Homo sapiens: one gene and its partner. The protein of the gene in region 1 interacts with the protein of each later gene in a pairwise test. Each region holds a gene or a part of one and is shown on either strand. Other genes may lie near its edges.

Region 1 (7,694 bases):
GACCAAGACCACAGGCTATGGGATAAAATGGGCATCTATGCCAGAGATTTATTATGGTCCTTTCTGCTGTGCAACCCAGATAAACTAAGAGAAATATTTAGGGAGGCGGCTTGGCATGGTGGCTCACACCTATAATCCCAGCACTTTGGGAGGTCAAGGTGGGCAAATCACTTGGCACTTGAGGTCAGGAGTTCGAGACCAGCTTGGCCCAAGTGCTTCTGAAACCCCGTCTCTACTAAAAAAATACAAAAATGAGCTGGGTGTGGTGGCAGGTGCCTGTAATCGCAGCTACTCGGGAGGCTAAGGCAGGAGAATCGCTTGAATCAGGGATAGCGCCACTGCACTCCAGCCTGGGCAACAGAGTGAGACTCCATCTTTAAAAAAAAAAAAGAAAAGAAAATATTTAGGGAGACTAATTTAAGGGTGAGAAGGCCATTTCTGCAACGGATAGAGCAGTAAAAAGAATCTACCTTTGAGACAACAATGTTTTAGTTACTAGAAATATTATGGGCTGGGCGCAGTGGCTCATGCCTGTAAGCTCAGCACTTTGGGAGGCCGAGGCGGGTGGATCACCTGAGCTCAGGAGTTCGAGAGCAGCCTGGCCAACATGGTGAAACCCTGTCTCTACTTTAAAAAAAAAAAAAAAAAAAAAAAAGGCCGGGTGTGGTGGCAGATGCCTGTAATCCCAGCTACTCCAGAGGCTGAGGCAGGAGAATCACTTGAACCTGGGAGGTGGAGGTTGCACTGAGCTGAGATAGCGCCACTGCACTCCAGCCTGGTGACAGAGCGCAATACTTGGTCTCAAAAAAAAAAAAAAAAAAAAAAAAAAAAAAAGAAAGGCAAGAATTGCAATGGTTCAAGGGTTATTATTTAGGAAAGCTGTTGATAATGATCTCAGAGGAATCTTTAAAATTCATGCAAAAACAAAAGTGATTCTGCTTACGGTCAATGTAAGTCAAGGAATGGATGGTATTTATCATTTTTTGTGATAAATGCCAAGAACATAAGACGCTTGTACTCTGACTTCAAGAACTCTTTAAGGATCACGCTATCTGCGCATATGAATATGATAAAAAGGCTTGGTGCTGATGGCTACTGTTCTGTCTGACCAAATCTTGTATCTATTTCTACTTTCCCATTTTAAACTTTGAACCCTTAATCTCCTCCTAAGGTGTATTGTAAATCAGAGTAGAGAATAAATACATGAACAGAAACACTCACCAGGGATTTATTCATTTTCTGCTGCTCTTGGAAAAATCTGGAGGACTGTGAAAGCGGAGGCAGATCTGGGGAAGGAAAACCCAAGCCATGGCGTTATGAGCGGTCTGGCCTGCCAAGGCGGTCATCTCCCGCCCAAAACCTACACAGAAAGTTCCAAGAAGTACATCTTGTGGGAGACTGTCCCTTTAAGCCTTCAGAAGGGATTGGAAAATGATCAGGAGGGGGACCGATCTGCACATTTGAAACTCACACATGGCTACCTTGTGACTGAGTGGATGAGATTCTCATGGTGAATGAATACTGGATCCTACTGAAATAATCTGCCATCATTAAATGCAAGATTTAAAAAGGAATTCTGGTGACCAGCCTGGCCAACATGGTGAAACCCCATGTCTAGTAAAAATACAAAAATTAGCTGGGCGTGGTGGCGGGCGCCTGTAACCCCAGCTACTCGGGAGGCTGAGGCAGGAGAATCGCTTGAACCCGGGAGGCGGAGGTTGCAGTGAGCTGGGATGGCACCATTGCACTCCAGCCTGGGCAACAAAGCGAAACTTGTCTCAAAAACAAACAAACAAACAAACAAAAAACAAACAACAAAAAATGAATTCTGTAATACTCATCTATTTTCTTACTCTTTTAAATAAAGATCAGAAAATCCACAGGATGCCCTAAATAAAGGAATACAGTCGGCATAATTGAGTCTTTATTTGCAGAAACTTCAGTGTGCTACTCAAAAGGATCTTTTATTGAAGAACTTACGCTCACTTAACTAGGATACGGGGGACAGAACACTGGCCTGGGAGATAAAACTCCAGAGTTCTACTATGAGCAACTCCACCCACAAAACCTCGGACAAGTCACCCACCTGCTAAGGCCCTTCCCCTAGCAAATGAGGCAGCAAGAGATAGTTCCTGCAGGCTGTTCCTGCACTACAACGTATGATTCCACAAGAGCAGACCTAAGGGGGAATCAGCACTTAAATGAGAGAACAGAGGTGCTGACGGACGTTTAGATACGGTAGCAATCTGGAGCAGAGAGAGGAGGAAGGGCTGCTGGGGTGAGGGGGGAGTGGAGACAACGTCCGCAGCTGAGGCTGGTGACACCCCCCACGCCCCCGTAAGCCTCGTCCTCGCCGGACCCTGCCTTCAAACCCAAACACACGTCACTCCTGCAAGCGATCGAGACCTTCCACTGTCCCTCACTCTAAGGTGCCCTACACGCGGTGACTTCACCCAGGCCCTTCTCGCCCCGGGCCCGCAAACCCACGACTTACCCTCCTGGGGCTCCGCAGCCTCTGCCCCACCGCTCCCGACAGGCCGGGGCGGGATTGCTGTCGCGGGCGCGCGTCTGCTCGCGAGGTCCCTTCCTGTCCACCTCACCAAGGCCGTTCTGCTCCAGAGGGGCCCGGGCCGGGCCTACGGGACAAATCCAGGCGGGGCGTCCCTCCCGGAGCCCAGATCCGTCTCCCTGGGGCTCACCGTCCTGCGGAGCCGGGGCCGGGCCGTCGAGGACGCACACGGGCCGGGCCCGGGTCCCGCCGCCCCTTCGCCTCCGCCGTCGTCACCGCCCGGCCGGCCCCTTGGGCCCCAGCGCCGTCGGCTCCGGGGGTCGTGCTCGGGGATCCCCGCTTGAGCCTCCGCCTGGCCCGCACAGCCCCGCGCCCGCTTGGGTGCCGGCCCGGCTCTTCGGCGCCCAGCCCCGCAGGCTCCGCGATTCTCGCCCACCGGAGGCCAAAGCCTGGGAACTAGGGCGAGCGGTGACCTGGGGACGCACAGGAAGCGAGGGCACTGCGGCCGCGGCGCGCATGCGCGAACACGCACACAGAGAGGGGTGCACATGCGCAGGAATGCACCGGAAGTCCGCCTCCCGGGACCCGCCGCCGGTCCCAGGACAAATACCGTGACTCTATTTCCCATGAGCCTACGCGCTCCCCAAATTTAGGAGCCATTTGAAATGTCTCTATCTGGTCTAGCGGTTAAGAGGCTCTATGCTAAGAGAATTGGCAACGCCGAACCCCAGACTCAAATTTCTCCTTAGTTTAAGGGAACGTCTTCATGGGGATGTCTTGACTATCTTTAAGGGAACGTCTAGAAAGTCTCTGCTTCCTGTAGCATCTCGTAGACCATGCCTGGGCCAGTCCTGCCTTACCGGAGAGCTCAAGGCTTAAAATCAATGTCCATGTGCAACCGTGACAAATGGAACAAGAGGGTGCATCATGCTAGCTTATGATCACAATGACACATTTAACGAAAACTTCAGTAAATAGAGCCCATGGATGAAATAATAGAGGATTAGCCTGGGACAGGATACCATCCTCGCCCCAACAAGGAGAAAAAGAATTCCAGCTTTTCCAAATCACTTTGAATTAGTGATAGCTAGAAAACTCAGAGAATATGTACAGAATTGAAAGAAGAAAAAAATTAGCCAGAACTCTACTTCCTGAAGAGGATGAGGCAAGCAGAAGAAGAAATTTGCGTCTTAATGGAAAACGAAGCACATTTAGAAAGCCATGTTACTTGATTCCAACCCTGTTCCTTATCTTTGAGGTATTTTACACCTCTTTGAAAACTGTAGGTAATCGATGCAAGTTATGTTCTGTCTGGTGGAAGTTGGTTGACTTCCCACAATCCCCACTAGAGAAAATGCAGTTTTGACTGCATTTCTCCATTTACATAATCATTTCAATATTCCTGATCTGAAAATATGTCTGTTTCTCAGATTCTCTCTCTCTCTCTCTTTTTTTTTTTAATTTTGAGACAGGGTCTCACTCTGCTGTGCATGCTGGAGTTCAGTGGCGAGATCTTGGCTCACTGGTTCAAGGAATTCTCCTGCCTCAGCCTCCCAAGTAACTGGGATTACAGGTGCACACCACCAAGCCCGACTAATTTTTGAATTTTTAGTAGAGATGGGGGTTTCACCATGTTGGCCAGGCTGGTCTTAAACTCCTGACCTCAAGTGATCCACCCGCCTCAGCCTCCCAAAGTGCTGGGATTACAGGCATGAGCCACCATGTCCAGCCCTCAGATTCTCTTTTGAACCAGTTATAATATCTGCCTGTTTCCTCTTGAATTAAATAAAATCTTTAGCATGTGCTCATTTTTATATCTGTATCAGAGTCATGATTTTACTTTTATGTTTTAAGGTTTTCCAGGTCTTTGCAGAAGTCCCTGATGGAATCACATGACTGAGCCAGGAAAACCTCAGGACTGGAGTGCCTCATGAACTGTTGAAGCCCAGGTGAATCTTTTCTTGGCTCCCAGGAATGAGTCCAAAGTGCCAGTAGAAATTTGCTGGCTTCTCATTTTTCAGTAATTTCCCCATTTACCAATCCTGTGTTTTACTTTGGTTTGCATTTGTTTACATTGCTAGCATCACTGATTGGGACTTTGTTTGTTTTTGTTGTTTCAAGGCAAAGTCTCACTCTGCCGCCCAGGCTGGAGTGCAGGGGTACGATCTCGGCTCACTGCAACTTCTGCCTCCCAAGTTCAAGTGATTCTCCTGCCTCAACCTCCTGAGTAGCTGGGACTATAGGTGCATGCCACCATGCCCGACTAATTTTTGTATTTTTAGTAGAGACGGGGTTTTTCCATGTTGGCCAGACTGGTCTCGAACTCCTGACCTCAGGTGGTAGACTCGCCTCAGCTTCCCAAAGTGGTGGGATTACAGGCGTGAAGCACCGCGCTGGGCTAGGAATTTGGTTTTATGGTCTGATCACATGGTGATCTCTGTAATGAGATTAATGTTTGCAAAGACCTAATCTCTGTTGGGTGAGAGACATCAGAGTCTGATTTGTTATTCTATTTCTCTGTCTATTTTGAGCTGAAATCAATTAAGAATTTCATGCCCACTGGGAGGAGAAGAGCTCTTTCATATCTGGAAGGGTGAGTTTTTGCATTTTTGTGTTTACTCTTGACCCATGTCTGAAATTTTAGAATTGAAGCTGTAAGCTCTATTTCTTTGTATGTCTGTGTGTCTGTAATTTAGAAAGGTCTTTACCTCTGATTGTGTGAGTGTCTAATGTTTTTCCACCTCTGAATGGTATTATAGTAGATATAGAGTTTGTTTGTTTGTTTTTGAGACAGGGTCTCACTCTGTCGTCCAGGCTGAAGTGCAGTGTGTGCGATCACGGATCACTGCAGCTTCAACCTACCTGGGCTCAGGTGTTCCTCCCACCTCAGCCTCCCAATTAGCTGGGACTGCAGGTGTGTACCACCATACCCAACTAATTTTCGTATTCTCTATAGAGATGGGGTTTTGCCATGTTGCCCAGGATGGTCTCGAACTTCTGGGCTCAAGCGATCTGATCACCTCAGCCTCCCAAAGTGCTGGGATTACAGGCATGAGCCACAATATAGAGTCTTTAAAGGTTTGCTGTTCTGATTGGCTTGTAGAGGTGTGTATGTACTTATATAAATTGAATTTGCCCAAATTCTTAGAAAAAAAGAGAAATTGAACTTCTGTTGCTTTAATGTGCTAGAAAGGTATTTTTTACTGAAACCAAATCAAATGTTTTGGAAATGCGAGTCCGCATGTAGTCCACATATATGTTACCGAGCAGTCAATGCACTCGCTGCCCAGTGTGTACAGAGGCCAATACCATGGCTCCAGCTTTTGAGAAATAAAGCCTTTTTGTAAGTCAACTAGCAAGGACACAGGAGGAAATGCTCAAATCTCCCTTTCCCAGCTGGGGGCTATGTCAGGTTTTGTACGCATAGGGTAAGGAGATGTGATTTGATTGGATCTTGAGATGAAGTAATTAATGCTGGGAGGTGTGATCTGACTGGATCCTGCCATGGAGTGACACCAAAACTCAATCTCATTGGTTCCTGGCTCCTGCCACAGGGTGTCCGGTTCTTAAATGGGTCCCAGCTCCTCAGTCCGAGCACTTAGGTTCCACTTCGTGGTTGCATGCTTGGTTAATCTGGGCATGCTCAGAGTATATGACCTTCAACCCACGGATCCATGGCAGTTGAAAAACAACTGCCAACTACATTACATAAAAGTTGAAATGGACGTGGAGTGTGGTGGCTCACACCTGTAATCCCAGCACTTTGGGAAGCTGAGGCAGGCAGATCACGAGGTCAGGAGTTCCAGCCCAGCCTGGCCAATATGGTGAAACCCCGCCTCTACTAAAAATACAAAAATTATCCAGGGGTGGTGATGCGCTGAGGCAGGAGAATCTCTTGAACCCAGGAGGCGGAGGTTCCAGTGAACCGAGATCGCGCCATTAAACTGCAACCTGGGTGACAAGAGCAAAACTCCGTCAAAAAAAAAAAAAAACTTGAACTAGATTTAGTCTGATGCAGTTCCAGATTTACAAACCGTGTCCCCACCCTCCTGCCGACACCTTCCACTCCTCATTCTTGAGGGATTAGGGATGGAGGTCATGCTTCTGTATCTACTTCATGCTGACCAGAGGCACTGAGTCCCCTAAAGTTAGAGGAATGAAACTCTTGGGCTGCTGAGTTCAAATGAGTTTTGGGGTCACCCAGAATTGCTTGAAGGGCTGGTATTGTTGTGGTAATACAAGCTGAAGGTGGAAGTGTTGGAGCCGGGAGGACAAACAGCTCACCATCAATTTAAATAAACAGGACTGAAAAGTACCAGGAGAACAGTGGCCACGAGGGGCCCCAACAGAGGAAGAAACCAGGTGAGGTGCGGTATAGTGGACTCGACTGCTTTCTAAATCTCAGTGGTTGGCCAGGCACTGTGGCTCATGCCTGTAATCTTAGCAAAAGGGAGGCCGAGGCAGGCGGGTCACCTGAGCTCAGGAGTTGGAGACCAGCCTGGCCAACATGGTGAAGTCCCATCTCTACTAAAAATACAAAAATTAGCCAGGCATGGTGGCATGTGCTGTAGTCCCAGCTAATCGGGAGGCTGAGGCAGGAGAATTGCTTGAACCCGGGAGGCGGAGGTTGCAGTGAGCCTCCAGCCTGGGTGACAGAGCGAGACTCTGTCTCTAAATAAATAAACAAATAAATAAATCTCGGTGGTTCAACTACCCTTGATACAGTTTGGCTCTGTGTCACCACCCAAATCTCATGTCAAATTGTAATTCCCAGTGTTGAGGGAGGGAGCTGGTGGGAGGTGATTGGCTCATGGGGACCATCTTCCCCCGTGCTGTTCTCTTGGTAGTGAGTGAGCCCTCGTGGGATCTGGTTGTTGAAAAGCGTGCATCACCTCCCGCTTCATTCTCTCTGTCTCTCCCGCTCCACCATAGCCAGACGTGCCTGCTTCCACTTCGCCTTCTGCCATGACTGTCCGTTTCCTGAGGCCTCCCCAGCCATGCTTCCTGTACGGCCTGCAGAACTGTGAGTCAATTAAACCTCTTTTCTTCATAAATTAACCAGTTTCAGGTAGTTCTTTATAGCAGTATGAAAACAGACTAATGGACCCTTCTGGTTGAAGGAATGCAGCCATTCTGCTAGTTTGACTATTTCCTTTCTATTCATCTCTATTTCCCGGGAGGTGTT
Region 2 (7,477 bases), on another chromosome or scaffold:
TCCCCCACGTATGCATCTTCAAAAGGGGCTCTGCTCCACCAGCAGACGGGCAAAATTTAGACATTATCAAGAGGCCACCAAAGGAAAAGGTGAGGAAACTCAGGATGCCAGATCAGATACAATGACCCTCCTGGATCCAAGGAAAGGAAAACGTCTTCAAGCAAGAGCCTCCAACTAAAGCAGCCCATCCAAGCCCCTACCCAGTAACCTCACCGTCAAGACAAGACCCCTCTGAGAACTTCTGGAGGCTGGTGGAGACCTACCCACCCTCCCTGACCAGGCACCACCACCCGCCTGCAGGCTGCAGGATTGAGATTCCACCAGCCAAAGCAGCCCTTTTCCTCCCCTTTGTTGGCTTTAGAAAGAAACTAAGACTGGCTTGTCCAAAGAAAACCAAAACATCTGCCTGAAATATTCAAATATTTAGGGGAAAAAAGGGGAAAATCCCTCTTTGGGGGATTTTTTCTTGGGAAAAAAGAGAAGCCAGAAATGAGATCCTGGGACAACTAAGCAACTCTGTTTTTTGCTTTTCTGAGCACCACGCCACCATGATCATTGAGTACTGTGTGCACTGCCAAAGAAGCACTGATCAGGGGGCTAGTGGACACTGAACACCTGTCTGCCAATCCGTTGCCTGGGCATGGGGATCCATCTGCCCAGAAGGGAACACCTTTTGTGAATTCATACAAAGGCACCCTACAGGTTAGCATGGGCTACCTATTACCGATGTTAGTCATGTTTGGATAACATAGGAAGAATAAAAACATTGACAGTGAGAAGGGTCCATGTTTTTATCTGGATTCCTTAGAATCAGATCCTGAGATAAGAATTCCTATGAAAGTGTATTAGGAGATATTCCTAGGAAAAAATGGTAGGGATGTGAAGAAGTAAAACAAGAAAAAGTAGCAAGCCAAGCGAGGGAAACAAGCCAAGCAAAGAACCATAGAGGTCAATTTGACACAACTCCACATTGGATCTCTGGAAACAAAGGATGTCATGCTTCAGAGTGTCCCAATCAAGGGCAAAGAAGCTGGACTATTTATACTCCAGCACCCATCAGTCATTGAGGAGGGGCTGCCCCAGGGGAGATGTAAATTCCCAGGCACTCCCTGTTCTGAGTCCCTACAAACATAGGCTCTGCCGCCCAAGGGTCATCCTCCAACAAAGAGATGGAGGGACTGGCAATTGGAAGTGAAGGCACCCAGGGTACCAATACGCACCAAGATGGCAAAGCTCACCATAAAAGAACATGACTCAAAAATCTTTCAAACCTAAATGAAAGGAGTTACAGAACATCTTTCAGAAAACACTTTCTGCCCCTCTTTGTTCTTTCTTCAGTGAAGCAATTTAAATATTAAATTGAAATGCTTTTCTAAAGTTGGGCTGTGAGGCAAACCCAATACTCTTTTCTTTTTTTTTTTCTTCCTGAGGGTCTTGCTTCTTGCTACTTTATCCTAAGGATAAGCACAATGCTTGCCTATTGCTGTAGATGCCTCATTGATCAAGATCATTAGCTCAACATCAGCCCAACAGATCTCCACTGTAAGCAGTTACACAGACACTTCACAGCTCCTAATACAATCATCAAAGTGCAGGGCCACCTAATTAATGCCAAGAGGTTTTATGACAGCCAATGATGAAGGTGGGACCCTGCTTCAATTTAACAGCTGTCATCTTGGACAATACATCAAGGAAAGGAAATGGAATCAACTAGGAGGGGGTGAGGTGGAGGAATGACTAACTGTTAGGATTGAATAACAACGGAGTTCCCTCCACAACTTCTCACACACTTCCCCCCTCCCAGCAGGCAGATACTCTGAAAAGGTGTCCCCAGACGCCTCTGCCAAGGACTGGCACAGCCTTCTCCCTTCCTCACCACACCTCGCCCCCAGGGCCAGACATGGAAAGGAGTGTAAATGTGATCCTATATTTGAAATTAATTGATAGGATATTTCACGAGCTCAGATTTTTTTATATTAATTCCCAAATGCTCTGCCTGTATCCTTTTTCCTAATCATCTTTGGTTCTTCTGTGTTTCTTTAGTTCTAAGGAGGGTTTCTTGTCATTTAGATGGGTCAGAGACCTCTAGAGACCTGGATCCAACTCCAGCTCCGCTGCTATGGAGCCGTGTGACCCTGGGCAAGGCACGAGCTCTGTGGGCCTCAGTTTTCTCATCTGAGAAATGGGGATAATTCCATTCTTTACAGATTTGTGGAGAGGATGAAATACGCTTAACTCTAGGTGAAGCGCTTGGCATGTTGAGTTGCACAATAAATGTCAGCTCCCTCCCTGCGCCTTCTCCCTTCTGCAGCCTCACCGCACCTGCACCTTGAAAGACACCCAGTGCGTTTCCCAGGAAGGGCCCCCCTGCTGGCGAGGGAAATAAAATCAGCTCCGGAGAGCGTTATTCCCCTAGAAAGCAGGTTTCAGGTGGTGTACACCCGCACGCGCGCGCGTTTACACACACGTACACACACATACACACGTACACACACATACACACACACAGTCCTCCGTACACCCACGCGGGGTCTGGCACTGCTGCTACATCCCGCACGGAGCGGGGTCCAGAGTTAGGGCGAATGAGTCCTCCCGCCCCCGCCAAGGTGGCGCCCAGAACGGGTCGGTGCCGGAGCGCACGGTACTCACCCGGGGCAGGCCGCGCCGGGCAGGCTGGGGCTGGCCGGGCCGGGGGCGGCGGCGGCTGCGGGGCTGGAGTGGCGGCGGGCATGGCGCGGCGGCGGGCTCGGGGAGAGCCTGGAGCAGAGGTGGCAGCGCGGGGACGCGGCTCGACGGTCGAGCAGGCGCGGGAAGGCGGGGCGAGACGAGCAGCCACGAGCCCGCGCCGACTCTCCCTCTTCTCTCCCTCCCGCCGCCCGCCGCCCGCCTGCCAGCCCCGCGCCGCGCAGCGCCCGGCGACAGCCACCGGGAACGTCTCCGGGGGCGCGGGACTTAGCAACCGCGCACCAGCTGCAGCCGCCCTCTCTGCGCCGGTCCCGCCATGCGCGCCGCTCCTGGCCCTGGAGGCCGGGCGGGGCCGGGCTTTGAACTTGCTCCCACACCCCCTGCTTCTCCAGTGAGCGCCCAAAGGCGGTCCCGCCTCTCCCCGGTCAGCGGAGTCCAGCCTTTCTGCTCTCCTTCCCCGCGCAGTTCCGCGGTGGAACCTGGCTGCGCTGGGTTTTGAACGTGCGCTTTGCCCCTGTTCTCTGTGGGTGGGTGGCAGCCCAAAGGCGACCCCAGGACCACCAGCCATCCTCGTGCCTCCCTGCAGGGCAGGGGCCAGACTTTCCACACCACTTCCTTCCTCCTATCCCATTCCCGCTCCTTGGATACACTGACCGTAGGTCCCAGGGCCGTTCTACTCTAACACCCTTGTTGCCCCCCAGATTCAGAGACCTGCTTACACTCTGGTCCACACCCATGGTCTCAAAGACTTAGGCTGCAAAACGTTCCTCCAGCCTAGTGGCTTCTTGGTACCATCTGAAGGCAGCTCGATGGCCCCTTGCTTTGTTGTACCTCTTCCCAGCACCACACACCTGTTCCTCATATTTGCAGGTCCCTCAGGTCTGCAGTGCGGGGTCTGGGGACCCATATTCCCGGGTACTGACTCCCAGATCTCTCCTGCGTCAGATAATAAATTCACTGGATCAGCCATACCCTTCTCTCCACAGGGCCGTTGACATGATTACAGAGTGGTCTGGCTTTTGCCTTTATCAATCAAGTCACAAAGTGGTCTTGTCTGTTGGGTCTGATGTTGCTGTTCTGTGAAATTGTTTATGCTCAACAGAACGCCAAGGCCGAGCTGATAGAACCAGACCAGCTCCCAGATGGCAGGGGCTGTCTTTCTCTTTATCACACATAACAAGAAGCCTGGAAGAAGGCTCCTCTGTGTGTGTTCAGCTGCTCAGGGATGACGTTAAGGACTCAGTCTCTTTCCATGATTCCACATGGCCACCTTCAACATCTTGCCTTTTCTCCTCAGACTTGTTGCCTCAAGGTTCCAAAATGGCTGCAACAGCCATGCCATGATGCTGCTGTGCAAAAAATAACTCCTGGTTCTAGCTGGTTTGTTGGCCAGGTACTCTGAAGTCATCATCAAGGACAGTTTTCAGCAATCCAGTTCACCAATGGTGAACACAACAAATGCCCTGCCTTCAAGTCACTCACCTTCTAGTAGGGGGAGACAGATAATAAAATACACAAGTATGGTGATAAATAGTATGAAGAAAAATGAACCAAGAAAAAGGGAATGTGATTATGTAAGTTGAGTGGTTGGGAAAGGTAACATTTGAGTAAAAACCCGAAGGAAGAACCTATTGGAAATCTCTCTGGGAGACAAGTGTCCTTGAGATACTTACACACTTTCTTTTTAAAATCACTTACTTTTCTCTTTAACAGCCACTCTTCCTGGCCCTATCACCTATATTTTAGGAGAAAATAAAAGTTAAATAAACTGAGTTTTAGTAAAAAGGTTTAAGCTTTGTAAAGGAGAGATCAGATGACTTGTGTTTTCTTCCTTGCAAAAGCAGCAATCTCACAGTGTTTAATTATTGGCTGGATTATCATGATTTAAATACGAACTAGATATACACATATCAAGCAATCACAATGAACACCTTAAGTTATCAGATTACTTCACAAGAGTGAGGGATATATCTTGTTGAATATTGGCAAAGAAATTGCTAATTGCCTACTCAACACCTATTTTCATTTCTGATCCGGTATTTTAAAAAAAATGTTTTTTAGCTAAGCATACTACCACCTGCAATTTAAAAAAAATACATTTTCTAGCCTCCCTTGCAGCAAGGAGTGATGATATGAAAAGTTTCTGGCCAATGAAATATAATTGTAAGTGTTGTATTGGATTTTCAGTAGATGCCTTAAAGATGCTGATTTGGCTGACAGATGCACTCCTTTGTCCCTTTTCCTTCGTCCTGGAATCCAGGTATAATGATGTGGTAGGTGAGATTATTAATTTCAGTTATTCACTCCATTCCTCAATTGAATTGGACAATCCACCCTTTATGGTACTTGGAGTGTGTTTCCCTGTACCTTGACTTTAGGCTTGGCCATCTTTCTTTTTCTTTCTTTTCTTTTTTGTTTTGTTTTGTTTTTAACTTTAAACAATTTTTTATTACACAAAGGTTGTCACATAATTGGATATTTCTCTACTTTGTACATAATTATTCTCACCCTCCACAGAAAGTCTGCTTAACTTCTCATCTGGTGGTGGCAAGCACTAAAATCCTGATTTTAACAGAATAGTAGTAAAAATGCCTCAGTTATTTAAGTTGAAGGCAGTACATTGGTACATGACTCTTGTACCCAATATCAGGAATGTACAAATGTCTTTTTATTCAAAAATACAAAATAAAGTATTGATAGGCATGGACAATGACAGCAGTAAACCATTATATATTTTGTCAACTGAACCAGTAACTGATGGTTATAATGATTTCTTAAACATCAGCCAGCCTTTTCTTCATTTTCTCCAACTGACTTCTCTGAAGTTATTGGTGAGGAACACTGCCTTGACTTCCTGTCACAGTTCATTAATAAAAGTAAAGCACTATTCTAGGAGTTACAACATGCCCCCTCCCATACCACATCCCATTCCACCCATTGCACCCATTCCAGGGTCCTTCTCTTCTTTAGGAATTTCTGTGACTACAACTTCTGCTGTAGTTAACAGAGAGGCCACACCAGCAGCATCCAATAAAGCAGTTCTCACAACCTTTCTTGGGTCAATAATTCCTTTTCCCACCATATTCACAAAATCTCCGACCCTAGTAGCATCATAACCAACTTCTGAGGAACGTTGCATAATTTTCTCAACTATCGAAGATCCTTCAACACCTGCATTCTTAGCAATGGTCATTGCTGGAATTTTGAGTGTTGTTTTGATTGTTTATATACCAATTAGTTTATCTTCATTAGCTGGAGTCAATGAGTCCAAGGCTGGAATGCACCAAAGCAGGGCACAACCCCCTCCCAAAACAATGCCTTCTTCAACAGCAGCTCTGGTAGCATTAAGGGCATCTGTAACTCTGTCTTTCTTTTCATTCGCTTCAACATCACTTGTCCCACCAACCTTTGGCATAGCTATCCCATCTGAAAGTTTTGCCAGTCATTCAGTTTTTCCTTTTCATATTCACTAGTTGTGACATCTAACTGCTCAATGATTTCTTGAATATGTTTTTCAATTTGAGCATTGCCACCTTTTCCTTTTAAGAGCATGGCATCATCTTTGGTCACAATGACCTCTCCAACTTTTCCTAAGTCATGAGGCTGAACATCTTCAAAATGTAGGATCAACCCCTCTTCTCCAAACACTGCACCAACAGTAGTAACAGCCATATCTTTGAGCTGGTTCTTTGTCACAAAACCCTGGAGCCTTGACTGCCACAACCTGAAAATCAATCTTTAGGCTGTTCAAGACAAGTGTACTTAGAGCTTCTCCACCAACATCTTCAGTGATTATGACCAAAGGCTTACGGTGAGCACTGGCAGTTTCAAGAGCAGGTACAATGGACTGGACACTAGAAATTTTCTTTTCACTCAACAGAACATATGCCTCCTGGAATTCACATTTCTGACCTTTTGATGTATTAATAAAGTATGGAGAAACATAGCCTCGATCAAACTTCAAGCTTTCAATAATTTCTAATCCATCATTCAGTGTTTTCCCATCCTTTACTGTTATGACACCCTTTCTTCCCACCTTTTTCACTGCATCAGAGAGGATATGGCCAATTTCTTTGTCTCCACTTGCAGAAATTGTAGCAACCTGCGCAATTTCTTCAGGGGTGGTCACAGGTTTAGACTGCTTTTTAGGTTCAGCTATTACAGCATCAACAGCTAACATCACACCTCTCCTGATTTCCACTGGATTAGCACCTTTGCTAATCTTCTCAAAGCCTTCCTTGGCAATAGAGCATGCCAGTACAGTAGCAGTGGTAGGGCCATCCCCAGCCTCTTCATTTGTGTTATTGGCAACATCTTGAACGAGTTTAGCTTCAATATTTTTATATTTATTCTTTAAGTCAATTGACTTTGCAACAGTCACACCATCTTTTGTTACTTTGGGACTTCCCCAGCTCTGCTCAATAATCACTGTTCTTCCCTTTGGCCCCATTGTAATGGCTACAGCATCGACTAAAAGGTCTACACCTTGAAGCATTAAGGCTCAGGCATCTGCACTGAATTTTACATCTTTGGCATAAGCCCGAGTGAGATGAGGAACCAATACCCTGGACAATGGTCTTATCTAAAGACAGTGGGGAACCGAAGCATTTCTGTGAGGTGGTGGCAGGGCATGCCCGGGGCGTGGCGAGGCAGGTCGGCAGTGAGTGAGGCCTTTTTTTTTTTAAGACTTAGTTTCGCTCTTGTTGCCCGGGCTGAAGTCCAATGGCGCAATCTCGGCTTGCTGCAACCTCTGCCTCCCAGGTTCAAGTGATTCTCCTGCCTCAGCCTCCTG

Evidence for each region. Proteins that work in one complex are often made in the same cells at the same time.
Region 2: the proteins of ZNF12 (region 1) and DCLK3 interact in a two-hybrid assay, tested with the Homo sapiens proteins (one study listed by IntAct).

The regions. Positions count from the first base shown.
Region 1 is NC_000007.14:6,703,938-6,711,631, forward strand, and holds the start of ZNF12 (zinc finger protein 12), read right to left. Parts: upstream 3,011-7,694; 5' UTR 2,495-3,010; intron 1,287-2,494; 5' UTR 1,237-1,286; coding exon 1,222-1,236; intron 1-1,221. UniProt on the Homo sapiens protein: Transcriptional repressor which suppresses activation protein 1 (AP-1)- and serum response element (SRE)-mediated transcriptional activity.
Region 2 is NC_000003.12:36,761,533-36,769,009, forward strand, and holds the start of DCLK3 (serine/threonine-protein kinase DCLK3), read right to left. Parts: upstream 3,022-7,477; 5' UTR 2,732-3,021; coding exon 2,650-2,731; intron 1-2,649.